Homo sapiens: one gene and its partners. The protein of the gene in region 1 purifies or fractionates together with the protein of each later gene. This does not show direct contact. Each region holds a gene or a part of one and is shown in the gene's direction. Other genes may lie near its edges.

Region 1 (3,500 bases):
CGCAGATGCTAACATTCCACTCTATGATCGTGATCTTTTTCATTTTCCTTGTTCATTAATCTTATTACAGCAGTTCCTCAGTAACATCTTTACCACTAATCTTAAAATATGTGCGTGCTTGTACGTGAGCACAGACACACGAAGTCTTAAATGAGAGGGAAAATTTATCCTGGAAAAAAAATTTCTTGGCCAAGACTGAAATGTAGAAAGTAGGATAGATTTAGTCATTGTAATTCTCAAGTGCGTAATGAGGACCAGTGTGTTGAAATTATAATAGATAAACCAATATAATCCAAATTATCTGCAAATATTTTCTAATAACTAAAGCTGTCCTGAAATTGAAGTGAACCTCTGTAGACTAGTGAGTGCTTAGTTACTAAAAGTATTCAAGCAAAACTTGGTTCTCTATTTAATTGAGATGTGCTACAGCAGGGGTTAGCAAACTTTATGTAAAGGGTTAGCAGGCTTTCCAGGCTAGATGGGCTCTGTTGTAGCTTTTCACCTCTGCCATTAGAGCATGAAAATAAAAGCCATAGACAATATGTAAACAAATTGGCATAGCCATATTCTAATAAAACTTTGTTTACAAAAATAGGCAGGCAGCAGGCCACATTCAGCCTGAGCCTGTAGGCTGTAATTTGCTGATTTCTGCTGCAGCGGATGTTCCTTCATCATTGTTTGGGGTTTGTATAGGATGAATCCTATAGGTTCTTTTTTTTTTTTTTTTCCCAACAATGCTTTTGGAAAAAGAATTTCTACAGGTTCTGTCTCTTCTTATGGAGGACACAAGATAGGCATTTGTCATTCCACATTTTGCTAAGTAATTAGTATTTGTCTACATTTGAGGAGAAGGGAATAGAGTTTTATTGATTAAAGAAAGGCTGATTTTCAGAAACACAGGATACTATTTTAGATGATAAGAATTTAATACTTGTTACAATAGCTCTGATGGAAGAGAATGTTAAATTCTGTTTTAAGTAATTTTGTGTGCCTTCCCTGTACTTGCCATCAGTTTGAGCAGAATGCACTAGGCTTAAGAATTTGGAGTAAAATAACTACACTAAAAAAATTATTGAAAGTCTAAAATGTATATATATGCCTATCTCTTTTAGTATGCCTTTGTATATCATATGTTATTATTTTATTTTAAAAGTTATAATATTTGTAAAAACTAGTGAACAGGCAACTAATTTAAAAACTAAATCATGGTGTTCTTTATTTTGTTTTAGCAGAAACATACCACTTTTGAGCAACCTGTCTTTTCAGTTTCAAAACAGTCACCACCAATATCAACATCTAAATGGTTTGACCCAAAATCTATTTGTAAGACACCAAGCAGCAATACCTTGGATGATTACATGAGCTGGTAATTACTTTGGCCCCTTGCTTGATTGGCAGGGTGGTATGATAGAATTAACATGGGCTTCTGGGCCAAATAAATCTGGGATTAAATCCTGCTCTTTTACTTTAAAGACTTTCCATCTTCATATTATTTTTTCAGCATCAGTGTTTTCATCTATAAAATGGAAAGGGGGAAGTGGTTGCAATAATGCATATTTTTAAGGATTGTTGTGCATGTAGTTTCTGTCATATCGTAATCTGTACCTACAACCTATAAATATTCTAAGGATGTAAAACGTCTTGATAATCATGTATTGCCATACAGATATCTCTCTATTAAGAGAGAGATTTTAAAGGTTAGCATTCTTAGAGCAGATAAAGAGTAGATGAATTTTTTCACATAAGTGGTGTTAATTGGAAAGTGATAGCTTCTGGAAGAGATTGGTTTTTACAGTTCATGTAGTTCTGGAGGTATTCAAAGGTGTAGTATTTGAGTGAATAGGAATGATGGATAAGTGAAGAAGTTCGATGATGAGTGTGCTGATAGGGAACACAAGGGATACTACAAAAGAAAATGAATGACATTTCAGAGAAAGGAAATAAAGGGATGCGATACATTATAACCATCAACCGGTGGCTATATCTTTAATGTCTTAGGGGATAGCTTAAATCCGTGTTGTCTTTTGCGTTTCATTTTCATAATGTAATCCTTGATCTTAATTAGAACTGGTCTTAAAGATTTTATAACCCAGCCTCTTACCTACTTAATATAGTTTTACTATATATTGCCTCATTTTATTATATGTAGAATATTCTAAAGAATGATTGCTAACTAAAATAGCGATAATAGATATTTCTTGTGATACTAGGTTAATTATTGTTAACAAATATTTGTGGAGCTCTTTTGTGCCAAGCATTGTTCTAGGTGTTGAGGATATATTAATAGCAAAAAGGCAAACAAAGCACAAATGTATACTGGACAGATTTAAGCTCAAAGGCCAAACTCCTGTGATGTAATTGGCTTTCTGATATTTCTAGCAAGCCATTATAGAACATTATTGTTTAAAAAAAAACTCAAAATCTATGGCCGGCCACAAGCTGATGTTTGCTAAATTCATATAAAATAACCCTAACCACTTTGTATTTTAAATGCCATCTTTTCAAACAAAGATTTCTTGTCTGCATACAAATATTTACTTTCAGAAAGAATTCCCCAAAATTAAATATCCGGTGGTGGCATATCTGGAATAAGTGTCAGCTATATCATGAAAACTAACTTGGGTTCTGTTTGATGTAACACTTTTAAGTTTATATCAGTCTAAAATACATGAAACTGAATCAGACTTATTTGTTAAATTGTAATGTTTTAAATAAAAATATATATATATTTCCTAGTTTTAGAACTCCAGTTGTAAAGAATGACTTTCCACCTGCTTGTCAGTTGTCAACACCTTATGGCCAACCTGCCTGTTTCCAGCAGCAACAGCATCAAATACTTGCCACTCCACTTCAAAATTTACAGGTTCGATAAGCTTTATATATGATGGTATATGTTAAGATACAGTCCGTTTTACAGCTTTTATTTTTATAGCATCTAGTTATCAAGAAAGGTCTTAAGAACTTGGCCATTCTTATTTCCACTAGACAAAACTTTTCTGATATTCTAATAAGAGTGTGCCTTGTGGCTTTGAGAGGTTGGTTATTGAAGAAGCTTACGAAGCTACTCTTAATAACTAGGCCAAAGGATCCAGTTTGAATAGCTGGATAAAATTTCTCTTATGAATCAAGGTTACCTTTTATTTTTTATTTTTATTTATTTATTTATTTATTTATTTATTTATTTTTTGAGACAGAGTCTCGCTCTATTGCCCAAGCTGGAGTGCAGTGGCGCGATCTCGGGTGACTACAACCTCTGCTTCCCAGGTTCAAGCGATTCTCGTGCCTTAGCCTCCCGAGTAGCTGAGATTACAGGCACGCACCACCACACCTGGCTAATTTTTGTATTTTTACTAGAGACAGGGTTTCACCATGTTGCTCAGGCTGGTCTCAAACTCCTGGCCTCAAACCATCCGCCCGCCTCAGCCCCCCAAAGTTCTGGGGTTACAGGCATGAGCCACTGCGCCTGGCCAGCGTTACTTTTTGTTGTGTTTTGTCAGCTG
Region 2 (3,500 bases), on another chromosome or scaffold:
TTCTGCCGCCTCCTCCTCCTCCAACTCCATCTCAAAAGCCAGCACATCTCCTTTCCTCCTCTGCTCCGGAAAAGCACAGTGGAGACTTCATGCAACAATATTCCCAAAAAGAAGCCTCGAACTCTCAGAATTCTCAGGCTAAAATCATAACAGGAAAAACCGGTGTGTTGCCACCTCCCACATTGCCCAAACCCAAACTTCCCAAGCATATAAAAGATAATAAGAACGATTTTTCCCCCAAAGTTGAACTGGCAACCTCCCTGTCAGATATGGAATGTAAAATTACTACCTCAAAGGATCAGAAAAAAGTAATGGTGATGACCAGCAGTGAACACACGGAGACAAAGCAGAACGTTATTAGTAAGAGTCTTGATGAAAGAAAACAATTATCTATTGACTCTGCAAACTGTCTCTCACACACAGTTCCAGGAACTTCAGCACCCAGGAAAAAACAGATTGCGCCTCTTATAAAATCTCATTCATTTCCAGAGAGTTCAGGACAACAAAATCCAAAACCTTATATGAGAAAATTTAAGACACCTTTAATGATTGCTGAAGAAAAATATAGACAACAAAAAGAAGAAATTGAAAAACAGAAACAGGAGAGTTCTTACTACAACATTGTTAAAACTCAAAGCCAAAATCAACACATAACAGAGGTGGAAAAGGAAATGCCATTACAAAAAACCAATGAGGAGGTTTCCCTATCTGGAATTGATTCAGAATGCACTGTGGTTCAACCCAGCCCAGGCTCTCAAAGTAATGCTCGGATACTAGGAGTGTGTTCTGATAACCAACTCTCCACAACATCGCCAGAAACAGTCGCTGCCAAGAGGCTCCACCATGTTTTAGCAGCTTCAGAAGACAAAGATAAGATGAAAAAGGAAGTTTTACAAAGCTCAAGGGACATTATGCAATCCAAATCAGCTTGCGAAATTAAACAAAGTCACCAAGAATGTAGTACCCAACAAACACAACAGAAGAAGTATTTGGAGCAGTTGCACTTGCCCCAAAGCAAACCAATTTCCCCAAATTTCAAAGTTAAAACCATCAAACTTCCAACTCTAGATCATACATTAAATGAAACAGACCACAGCTATGAAAGTCATAAACAGCAATCTGAGATTGATGTTCAAACCTTTACCAAAAAACAATATCTGAAAACCAAGAAAACTGAAGCAAGCACTGAATGTAGTCATAAGCAATCTCTGGCTGAAAGACATTATCAGTTACCTAAGAAGGAGAAAAGAGTGACAGTACAATTGCCTACAGAATCCATACAGAAGAACCAGGAAGATAAGCTCAAGATGGTTCCCAGGAAGCAAAGAGAATTTAGCGGATCTGACAGAGGGAAACTTCCAGGAAGTGAAGAAAAAAATCAGGGACCATCAATGATTGGTCGAAAAGAAGAGAGATTAATAACTGAAAGAAAACACGAACATCTGAAGAATAAATCAGCACCAAAGGTCGTCAAGCAAAAGGTTATCGATGCACATCTTGATTCACAGACTCAGAATTTTCAGCAAACACAAATACAGACCGCTGAAAGTAAAGCTGAACATAAAAAATTGCCCCAGCCATATAATAGTCTGCAGGAAGAAAAATGTCTCGAAGTCAAGGGCATACAAGAGAAACAAGTCTTCTCTAATACTAAAGATTCAAAGCAAGAGATTACACAGAACAAATCTTTCTTTTCCTCTGTGAAAGAATCCCAGCGGGATGATGGAAAAGGTGCCTTAAATATAGTGGAATTCTTGAGAAAACGTGAAGAACTGCAACAGATTTTGTCGAGAGTGAAACAGTTTGAAGCAGAGCCAAATAAAAGTGGCCTTAAAACATTTCAGACACTATTAAATACTATCCCAGGATGGCTGATAAGTGAAGATAAGAGAGAATATGCAGTTCACATTGCCATGGAGAATAATTTAGAAAAAGTAAAAGAAGAAATAACACATATTAAAACTCAAGCGGAAGATATGCTTGTGTCCTATGAAAATATAATTCAGACAGCCATGATGTCCTCCAAAACAGGAAAACCGGGAAATAAACCCACTAGTCTTGATGAAACATCATCCAAAGTATCTAATGTTCATGTCAGCAATAATAAAAATAGTGAACAGAAAGAAAATAAAATTGCCAAAGAGAAAACAGTACAGCACCAAGTAGCAGCTCATCATGAAGCAACTGTTCGTAGTCACGTGAAAACCCATCAGGAAATTAAACTTGATGATAGCAACATTCCTCCTCCCTCTTTAAAAACACGCCCACCGTCACCAACTTTTATCACAATAGAATCTACTGCCCGACGAACAGAAAACCCTACTAAGAACGAGCTTTCTCAGTCCCCTAAAAAGGACAGTTATGTTGAACCCCCACCAAGAAGGCCCATGTCGCAAAAATCTGAAATTCACAGAGCAAACACTTCCCCTTCTCCACCCAGGAGTCGCTCTGAACAACTTGTCAGACTCAAAGACACCACTGCAAAGTTATCCAAAGGGGCCATCCCATGTCCAGCAGCAACCCCGGTTCCAATTGTAGAGAAGAGGTCTGAAATCATCATGTCTCCTGCAACACTTCGTCGTCAAATTAAGATAGAAACTCGTGGTAGGGACTCTCCACCTACAATCACAATACCAGTAAATATAAATCATGCTGCTAGTGGTTCCTTCAGAGAATCTGTGGACGCTCAAGAGGAAATCAGGAAAGTGGAGAAGAGAGCTACTTATGTTCATAAAGATGGACTAAATTCCACTGATCACATGGTGCCCGACACTGAAAGTTATGATGCAGTTGAAATCATCCGCAAGGTTGCAGTGCCTCCTCGCCTGTCAGAGCACACACAGAGATATGAAGCGGCCAACCGAACTGTTCAAATGGCTGAAAATTTCGTGAATGACCCTGAAAATGAAATAAACAGATGGTTCAGGGAATTTGAGCATGGCCCAGTTTCTGAAGCAAAGTCAAATAGAAGAGTTTATGCAAAGGGAGAAACAAACCATAACATACAACAAGAAAGTCGTACATTTTGTAAGGAGGAATTTGGATTAACATCTTTAGGAAACACGAGTTTTACAGACTTTTCTTGCAAACATCCTAGAGAACTGCGAGAAAAGATTCCTGTTAAGCAGCCCAGGATCTGCTCTGAAACCAGGTCTCTAAGTGAACATTTCTCAGGCATGGATGCATTTGAGAGTCAAATTGTTGAGTCGAAGATGAAAACCTCTTCATCACATAGCTCAGAAGCTGGCAAATCTGGCTGTGACTTCAAGCATGCCCCACCAACCTATGAGGATGTCATTGCTGGACATATTTTAGATATCTCTGATTCACCTAAAGAAGTAAGAAAAAATTTTCAAAAGACGTGGCAAGAGAGTGGAAGAGTTTTTAAAGGCCTGGGATATGCAACCGCAGATGCTTCTGCAACTGAGATGAGAACCACCTTCCAAGAGGAATCTGCATTTATAAGTGGTAAATGAGCTTGCAATGTGTTAAAGAAGATT
Region 3 (3,500 bases), 2.2 Mb from region 1:
TGATATCATAGTAGCCCAGTTTGGTTACGCACATATTTTCTGAATACATGCAAGAAAGGGGGAAGAGAAAGGGAGGAAGCAAATAAACAAGCAGATTATGAAGACAGTAGATTTATATATTTTTAATCCAAGTTGAAGAATTTTTTTCCCTTTGGGCAACAGGAAGTATAAGTTGAAAAGTTTTAAAAGCTAGTATGACACTAGATTTGCTTTTTAGAAAGGGAACTTTGGTTGCAGTATGGAGGATGTGTTTGTTGAAAGAGATGGAATCATGGATAATTGAGAATCCATCCACCAAAAATTTCCTGTATAATACAGCCAATATATTCAGTGGAAAATGTGTTGAAGAGAGGATGTAGTTCTTCAAAAACACTGAATATATGTGAAAAAGATTTCCATATTTTTCTAACTCCTTTTCTATTCCATTTACTTCTCAATCATTTTAGTAGTTTCAGTAAAGCCTTGATTAATGGTAGTTTATTTTTTTTTAACAGAGATTTTATCAAACCTTCACAATTCCTCATCAGATGTGTCTTATGTCTCTGATATAAATAGTGTGTATGAAAGAATTCGACTTGAGAAACTTACCTTTGCACATAGAGCTGTTAGTGTCAGCACAGATCCAAGTGGATGCAACTTTGCAATCCTGCAGTCAGATCCTAAAACAAGGTATACTTGTATATATTAAATTTCATTTTTTAGAAGGAACAATCACTGAATTTTCTTGTTTTCAGTAGCTGCTGGTGCAAATTTAATTGAAGAGCTGTTGCCAAGACCTATAGAGACCTTAGACATAATCATGTTTACAGATTATGTCTACAGATAATCCAGAGGTAGAATTTGTTATACTTGGAGTGATGAATGTTTCCTTTGGTTTATAAACTGACATTTATTGAAAATATTGAAAATATCTATACATGCACTCACAAAGTTTATTGTCTTTCTTTTTTTTTTTTTTTTTTTTGAGATGGAGTCTTGCTCTATTGCCCAGGCTAAGTGGCAAAATCTCGGCTCACTCTAACCTCCACCTCCCAGGATGAAGCAGTTCTCTTGCCTCAGCCTCCCAAGTAGTTGGGATTACAGGTGCCCGCCACCACACCCAGCTAATTTTTGTATTTTTAGTAGAGATGGGGTTTTGCCCTGTTGGCCAGGCTGGTCTTGACCACCTGACCTCAGGTGATCCGCCAGCCTCGGCCTCCCAAAGTGCTAGGATTACAGGCATGAGCCACCGCACCCTGCCTTATTTGTCTTTCATACTGTATGATGTACCCTGGGTTCTCAGATTCTGAAAAATGTATTATAAATATTTCTTAGGCAGTTTGCAAAGATTTCTGACCCTTGAATATGATGAGAATTGGCAAAATAAGTGTTGTGGCGCCATCTGTAAATCGCAATGCAAATCTCCTAAGTCACATAAGCAGAGAGGTATCAGATTAAGATAAACATCAAGGGTACTGTTGAAGAGGGAGGAAATTCTGCAAGTAGGGTCATCATCCATCCTGGTTTGCCCAGGCCTGCCCCAGTTTTAACATTGAAAGTCTCATCTGAGAAACTCGTCAGTCCAAGGCAAACCACAGGAGGGTTGGTCTTCCTACTGAGAAGGGTGAAATGTTGGTTGGGAAGGTGTAATTGCATTCCCACAGTACTGTAAGAACCAGGGATACGGACAACTTAGTTCTTATCATTTTAATTTGAGAGAAGAATAGAATATAAATATAAAAAGGAATAGAAAAAAATTAAAGGATGATATAGCATCTAGGACTTTGTGCAATATTCTTGTATTTTAGGAAATGCCAAATTTAAAATTTTCTAAATATTGTTAAAAAAATTGCATTTTAAAGGAGAATTGGCTAGGTATGAAAAAGGATTTCCTTCATATTTTTTGAAGCATAATTTGTTTTTGTCTTCTTTCTAGCCTTTATGAAATTCCAGCTGTGTCCTCATCATCCTTTTTTGAAGAGTTTGGCAAACTGTTGAGGGAAGCAGATGAAATGGACAGCATTCATGATGTGACATTTCAAGTTGGCAATAGACTCTTCCCTGCACATAAATATATTTTGGCAGTGCATTCTGATTTTTTTCAGAAATTGTTTCTTTCAGATGGTAATACTTCAGAATTTACAGATATTTACCAGAAAGATGAAGATTCTGCAGGGTGCCATCTCTTTGTGGTAGAGAAGGTTCATCCTGACATGTTTGAATACCTTTTACAATTTATATACACAGATACTTGTGACTTTTTAACTCATGGCTTCAAACCAAGAATACACTTAAACAAAAACCCAGAAGAATATCAGGGAACTCTGAATTCTCATTTGAATAAAGTGAATTTCCATGAAGATGATAACCAGAAGTCTGCATTTGAAGTTTACAAAAGTAATCAAGCTCAAACAGTTAGTGAGAGGCAGAAGAGCAAACCTAAATCTTGTAAAAAAGGAAAAAATATTAGGGAAGATGATCCTGTAAGAATGTTGCAAACTGTTGCAAAGAAATTCGACTTCAGTAATTTGAGTAGTAGGTATGATTTCTCTTTTATATCTGTTCCTGTACCTCATTCAGTCCTCCTTTAAAAAATTTCCCACCCTTACTGTGAAACCCCATCTCTACTAAAAATACAAAAAATTAGCCGGGTGTGGTGGCGGGCGCCTGTAGTCCCAGCTACTCAGGAGGCTGAGGCAGGAGAATGGCCTGAACCCGGGAGGCGGAGCTTGCAGTGAGCCGAGATTGCGCCACTGCATTCCAGCCTGGGCGACAGAGCGAGACTGTGTCTCAAAGAAAAAAAAAAAAATCCCACCCTTTTTGCCTTGCTTTGCTTTTCTTTCCCCTCCCCAAGTCTCCTCCCACTTGTTCCATCCCCTTCTCTTTCTCCTTCCCCTCCTCTTCCTCTCTCTCCCTTTCTCCCTACCCATCCTTTTTTTGGGGAGGTACATGGATATGTCTTTCCTCCATTTGCGGGCAGAGCTATCTCTGGGACTTCTTGGATTACATTAATGGATAGGAAAGCTGTTGGTGGGTTTGAACTCTGGTTTGTGTATGTAACAGGGATCTGGAGTGGCAGGCAATGTGGTATGCTGGAAAGGTCTTTCAAGTTAGACATACATATCTCTTAGCTTTACTATTCCTGGCTGGGACAATTTTCTTTTACCTCAGTTTCTCGAACTCCTGGGCTCAAGCGATCCTTCTTACTTCAGTTTCTCAATATAAGAAATGGGAAAGATAATATTTGCCTCATATTGTTGATATGGTTTTGTCATATGTAAATTGCCTAACACCATAGTATCATATTATGAATCAGATTATTTGAAATTCTTTCTTTTTTTAAGGTATTTATGTTGCTTGTGGCAGTTAAACCTTCGTTGTAGGGTGGGAAGAGAGGAGGGGTGTGTATCGTGTTTCCTGTTTAAAAATAATGAAGGGGCCGGGCGCGGTGGCTCACGCCTGTAATCCCAGCACTTTGGGAGGCTGAGGTGGGCAGATCTCCTGAGGTCAGGAGTTTGAGA
Region 4 (3,500 bases), on another chromosome or scaffold:
CATCAGGTGGTGTGGACACAAGCTCTGAGCAAATCGCCACCCTCACTGGCTTCCCAGACTTCAGGGAGCACATCGCCAAGATCTTCGAGAAGCCTGTGCTCGGAGCCCTGGCCACACCTGGAGAAAAGGCAGGAGCTGGGAGGAGTGCAGTGGGTAAAGACCTCACCAGGCCATTGGGCCCAGAGAAGCTTCTAGATGGGCCTCCAGGAGTGGATGTCACCCTTCTCCCTGCACCTCCTGCTCGACTCCAGGTGGAGAAGAAGCAACAGTTGGCTGGAGAGGCTGAGATTTCCCATCTGGCTCTGCAAGATCCAGCTTCAGACAAGCTTCTGGGTCCAGCAGGGCTGACCTGGGAGCGGAACTTGCCAGGTGCCGGTGTGGGGAAGGAGATGGCAGGTGTCCCACCCACACTGAGGGAAGACGAGAGGCCAGAGGGGCCTGGGGCAGCCTGGCCAGGCCTGGAAGGCCAGGCTTACTCACAGCTGGAGAGGAGCAGGCAGGAATTAGCTTCAGGTCTTCCTTCACCAGCAGCTACTCAGGAGCTCCCTGTGGAGAGAGCTGCTGCCTTCCAGGTGGCTCCCCATAGCCATGGAGAAGAGGCCGTGGCCCAAGACAGAATTCCTTCTGGAAAGCAGCACCAGGAAACATCTGCCTGCGACAGTCCACATGGAGAAGATGGTCCCGGGGACTTTGCTCACACAGGGGTTCCAGGACATGTGCCAAGGTCCACGTGTGCCCCTTCTCCTCAGAGGGAGGTTTTGACTGTGCCTGAGGCCAACAGTGAGCCCTGGACCCTTGACACGCTTGGGGGTGAAAGGAGACCCGGAGTCACTGCTGGCATCTTGGAAATGCGAAATGCCCTGGGCAACCAGAGCACCCCTGCACCACCAACTGGAGAAGTGGCAGACACTCCCCTGGAGCCTGGCAAGGTGGCAGGCGCTGCTGGGGAAGCAGAGGGTGACATCACCCTGAGCACAGCTGAGACACAGGCATGTGCGTCCGGTGATCTGCCTGAAGCAGGTACTACGAGGACATTCTCCGTTGTGGCAGGTGACTTGGTGCTGCCAGGAAGCTGTCAGGACCCAGCCTGCTCTGACAAGGCTCCGGGGATGGAGGGTACAGCTGCCCTTCATGGGGACAGCCCAGCCAGGCCCCAGCAGGCTAAGGAGCAGCCAGGGCCTGAGCGCCCCATTCCAGCTGGGGATGGGAAGGTGTGCGTCTCCTCACCTCCAGAGCCTGACGAAACTCACGACCCGAAGCTGCAACATTTGGCTCCAGAAGAGCTCCACACTGACAGGTACTTAAATGAAAAAATTCCCACGGGAATGTGTGGTCAGTTTCAAAGGTGATTCCCAGCCTGATTTTTAGAAGTCAGTCGCATAGGTGAGTGGTTTTCTAAAAGCTGAGTTTTCCATATCTAATTGCTAAATGAACCTGCTTACCCCCTCTGGATGTCCTGAGGCTCTGAAAAATGTGAGAACCATGGTTGGAGGCTGGGAGCTGTTGACTATGTTCTTTTTCTTGTGTTCCTTAATTCATCTAACTTAAACCACTGGAAAAGTATCAACTGTTTACTGGCTGGCTGTGTACTATTAAGTGATAGGTTATAGTCAGTCATATATTTTTCTGGAGTCCAGATACATCTGCTTTTGAATCTGGATTTATTTAGTCAGGGGGCCCTTTTTCCTAGGGATTTTTTTTTTTGTAGTAGCCACTTAAAACTTTAATTGAGAAATCTGCTTTTTCAATAGGACATGAGGAGAAATGCCTTACTATCTACATTATCCTATTAATTGCTTTCTTTTATTATCCCAGAGAGAGCCCCAGGCCTGGCCCATCCATGTTACCTTCGGTTCCTAAGAAGGATGCTCCAAGAGTCATGGATAAAGTCACTTCAGATGAGACCAGAGGTGCGGAAGGAACAGAAAGGTCAGCGAAAGATATTGGTCTTTGGAAGGCCATGATGCCTTCCTTAGATACAGACACACTGGATGTTTTGGAAAGGAGAGTAGTCCTTATACAGCATGAGTTCCTACATAAGAAAGAAGCAAATGGCCATTCCCGTTTTATGTACAGGTACAGCAGTACCTGGGATGACTAAAAGCTCCATTGTTGGAAAAGGGATTGAATGAGTTGCTTTCATACTTGAGTTTATTACCTTAAATTTAAAAAGTCAGTCTGGGTGCGGTGGCTCATGCCTGTAATCCCAACACTTTGGGAGGTCGAGGCAGGAAGATCACTTGAGCCCAGGAGTTTGAGACCAGCCACATGGTGAAACCCCATCTTTAGAAAAAATACAAAGATTAGCCGGGCACAGTGGCACGTGTCTGTAGTCCCAGTTACTTGGAAGTCTGAGTTGGGAGGATCGATCGTTTGAGCCCAGGAGGTGAAGGTTGCAGTGAGCCGTGTTTGTGCCACTGCACTCCACCCTGGGTGACAGAGACCCTGTCTCAAAAAAAGAAAAGAATCTTTATTGAGATGCAATTCATATACCACATAATTCACTCATACAATTCAGTGGCTTGTAGTATATTCACAGTGTGTAACCATGGCTACAATCAATTTCAGGTTATTTTCATCCCCACAGAAAGAAACCCTACAGCCCCTAGATATCATACCCCAGCCCCCACACCCGCCGCATCATCTCTAGGCACCCATTCATCTAGTTCATTACATCTTGATGCAAATGGGTTCAATGCTGATTTAGTCTCCGAAGCAGGAATGGCTCACCAACAGCGGTCACACTCCAGGAGATCTCGAGATTCAAGGAGGGTAAATGTAACCACGAACAGTGACCTTCACACTTGCAGTGTGCCTGCCTGTTCTTTTCTACATGAAATGCCACCTAGTGTTATGCAGAAGCTGCTGCTCAAGGTTTCATCCTTTTGGGGAAATGGTGATATTGTGCACGTACACAGACACACAGTGAACAAGCTTTCCGCCTCCCTAGGCCTTTGGCTGTTCTGGTGCTGTGTGTGCACACATATACATGCATACAACACTTGTGTGTATGAGTAGGGTGGAATCAGACTTTAAATTAGTACCTGTGTACCCTACCAAACAGCTGCAGGCATTTTATAAATGATCTGATTCATATTTTGCACATTCAGAAAGAATGCACGATCACCTGTTTTTCGAGTCTGAACACTTCCACTGACACCCAGCTGCCTCTGCCGCCTGGCAGTAGTGACTCCCATAGCTCTGAGCCAATGTGGATGTGGGCATGTGCTGGCCAAACAGATGCAAGTTTAATCTGCATTGGACACCCTTTTTTGCTACTGACTTAGGATACAATTTCCTGCAGCCTTTGCTGTTATGTATTTTTTATATTCCCAGTTAAGGGGCAGGAGAAATATCTGTCTAGCTTGGAAAAGTCTTCCCCACCCCAAAAATGACCATATCAGTGCCTTCTTTTTCAGAGTCCTTAAACATGTTAGCACCTTCTTGGAGAAGGCAGGGCCAGATGTATAGTAGTACAATAAATATTTCATGACTTGTTG

The links. Proteins that work in one complex are often made in the same cells at the same time.
Region 2: the proteins of TTK (region 1) and XIRP2 purify together in Homo sapiens (affinity purification with mass spectrometry; one large-scale study listed by BioGRID and IntAct). This does not show direct contact.
Region 3: the proteins of TTK (region 1) and IBTK purify together in Homo sapiens (affinity purification with mass spectrometry, with the first as the bait; one large-scale study listed by BioGRID). This does not show direct contact.
Region 4: the proteins of TTK (region 1) and TACC2 purify together in Homo sapiens (affinity purification with western blotting; one study listed by BioGRID and IntAct). This does not show direct contact.

What each region holds. Positions count from the first base shown.
Region 1 is NC_000006.12:80,025,149-80,028,648, forward strand, and holds part of TTK (dual specificity protein kinase TTK), read left to right. Parts: intron 1-1,229; coding exon 1,230-1,366; intron 1,367-2,736; coding exon 2,737-2,863; intron 2,864-3,500.
Region 2 is NC_000002.12:167,248,480-167,251,979, forward strand, and holds part of XIRP2 (xin actin-binding repeat-containing protein 2), read left to right. Parts: coding exon 1-3,468; intron 3,469-3,500.
Region 3 is NC_000006.12:82,213,245-82,216,744, reverse strand, and holds part of IBTK (inhibitor of Bruton tyrosine kinase), read left to right. Parts: intron 1-494; coding exon 495-669; intron 670-1,915; coding exon 1,916-2,518; intron 2,519-3,500. UniProt on the Homo sapiens protein: Acts as an inhibitor of BTK tyrosine kinase activity, thereby playing a role in B-cell development. Down-regulates BTK kinase activity, leading to interference with BTK-mediated calcium mobilization and NF-kappa-B-driven transcription.
Region 4 is NC_000010.11:122,086,663-122,090,162, forward strand, and holds part of TACC2 (transforming acidic coiled-coil-containing protein 2), read left to right. Parts: coding exon 1-1,297; intron 1,298-1,815; coding exon 1,816-1,929; coding exon of another isoform or gene 1,930-2,076; intron 2,077-3,500. UniProt on the Homo sapiens protein: Plays a role in the microtubule-dependent coupling of the nucleus and the centrosome. Involved in the processes that regulate centrosome-mediated interkinetic nuclear migration (INM) of neural progenitors.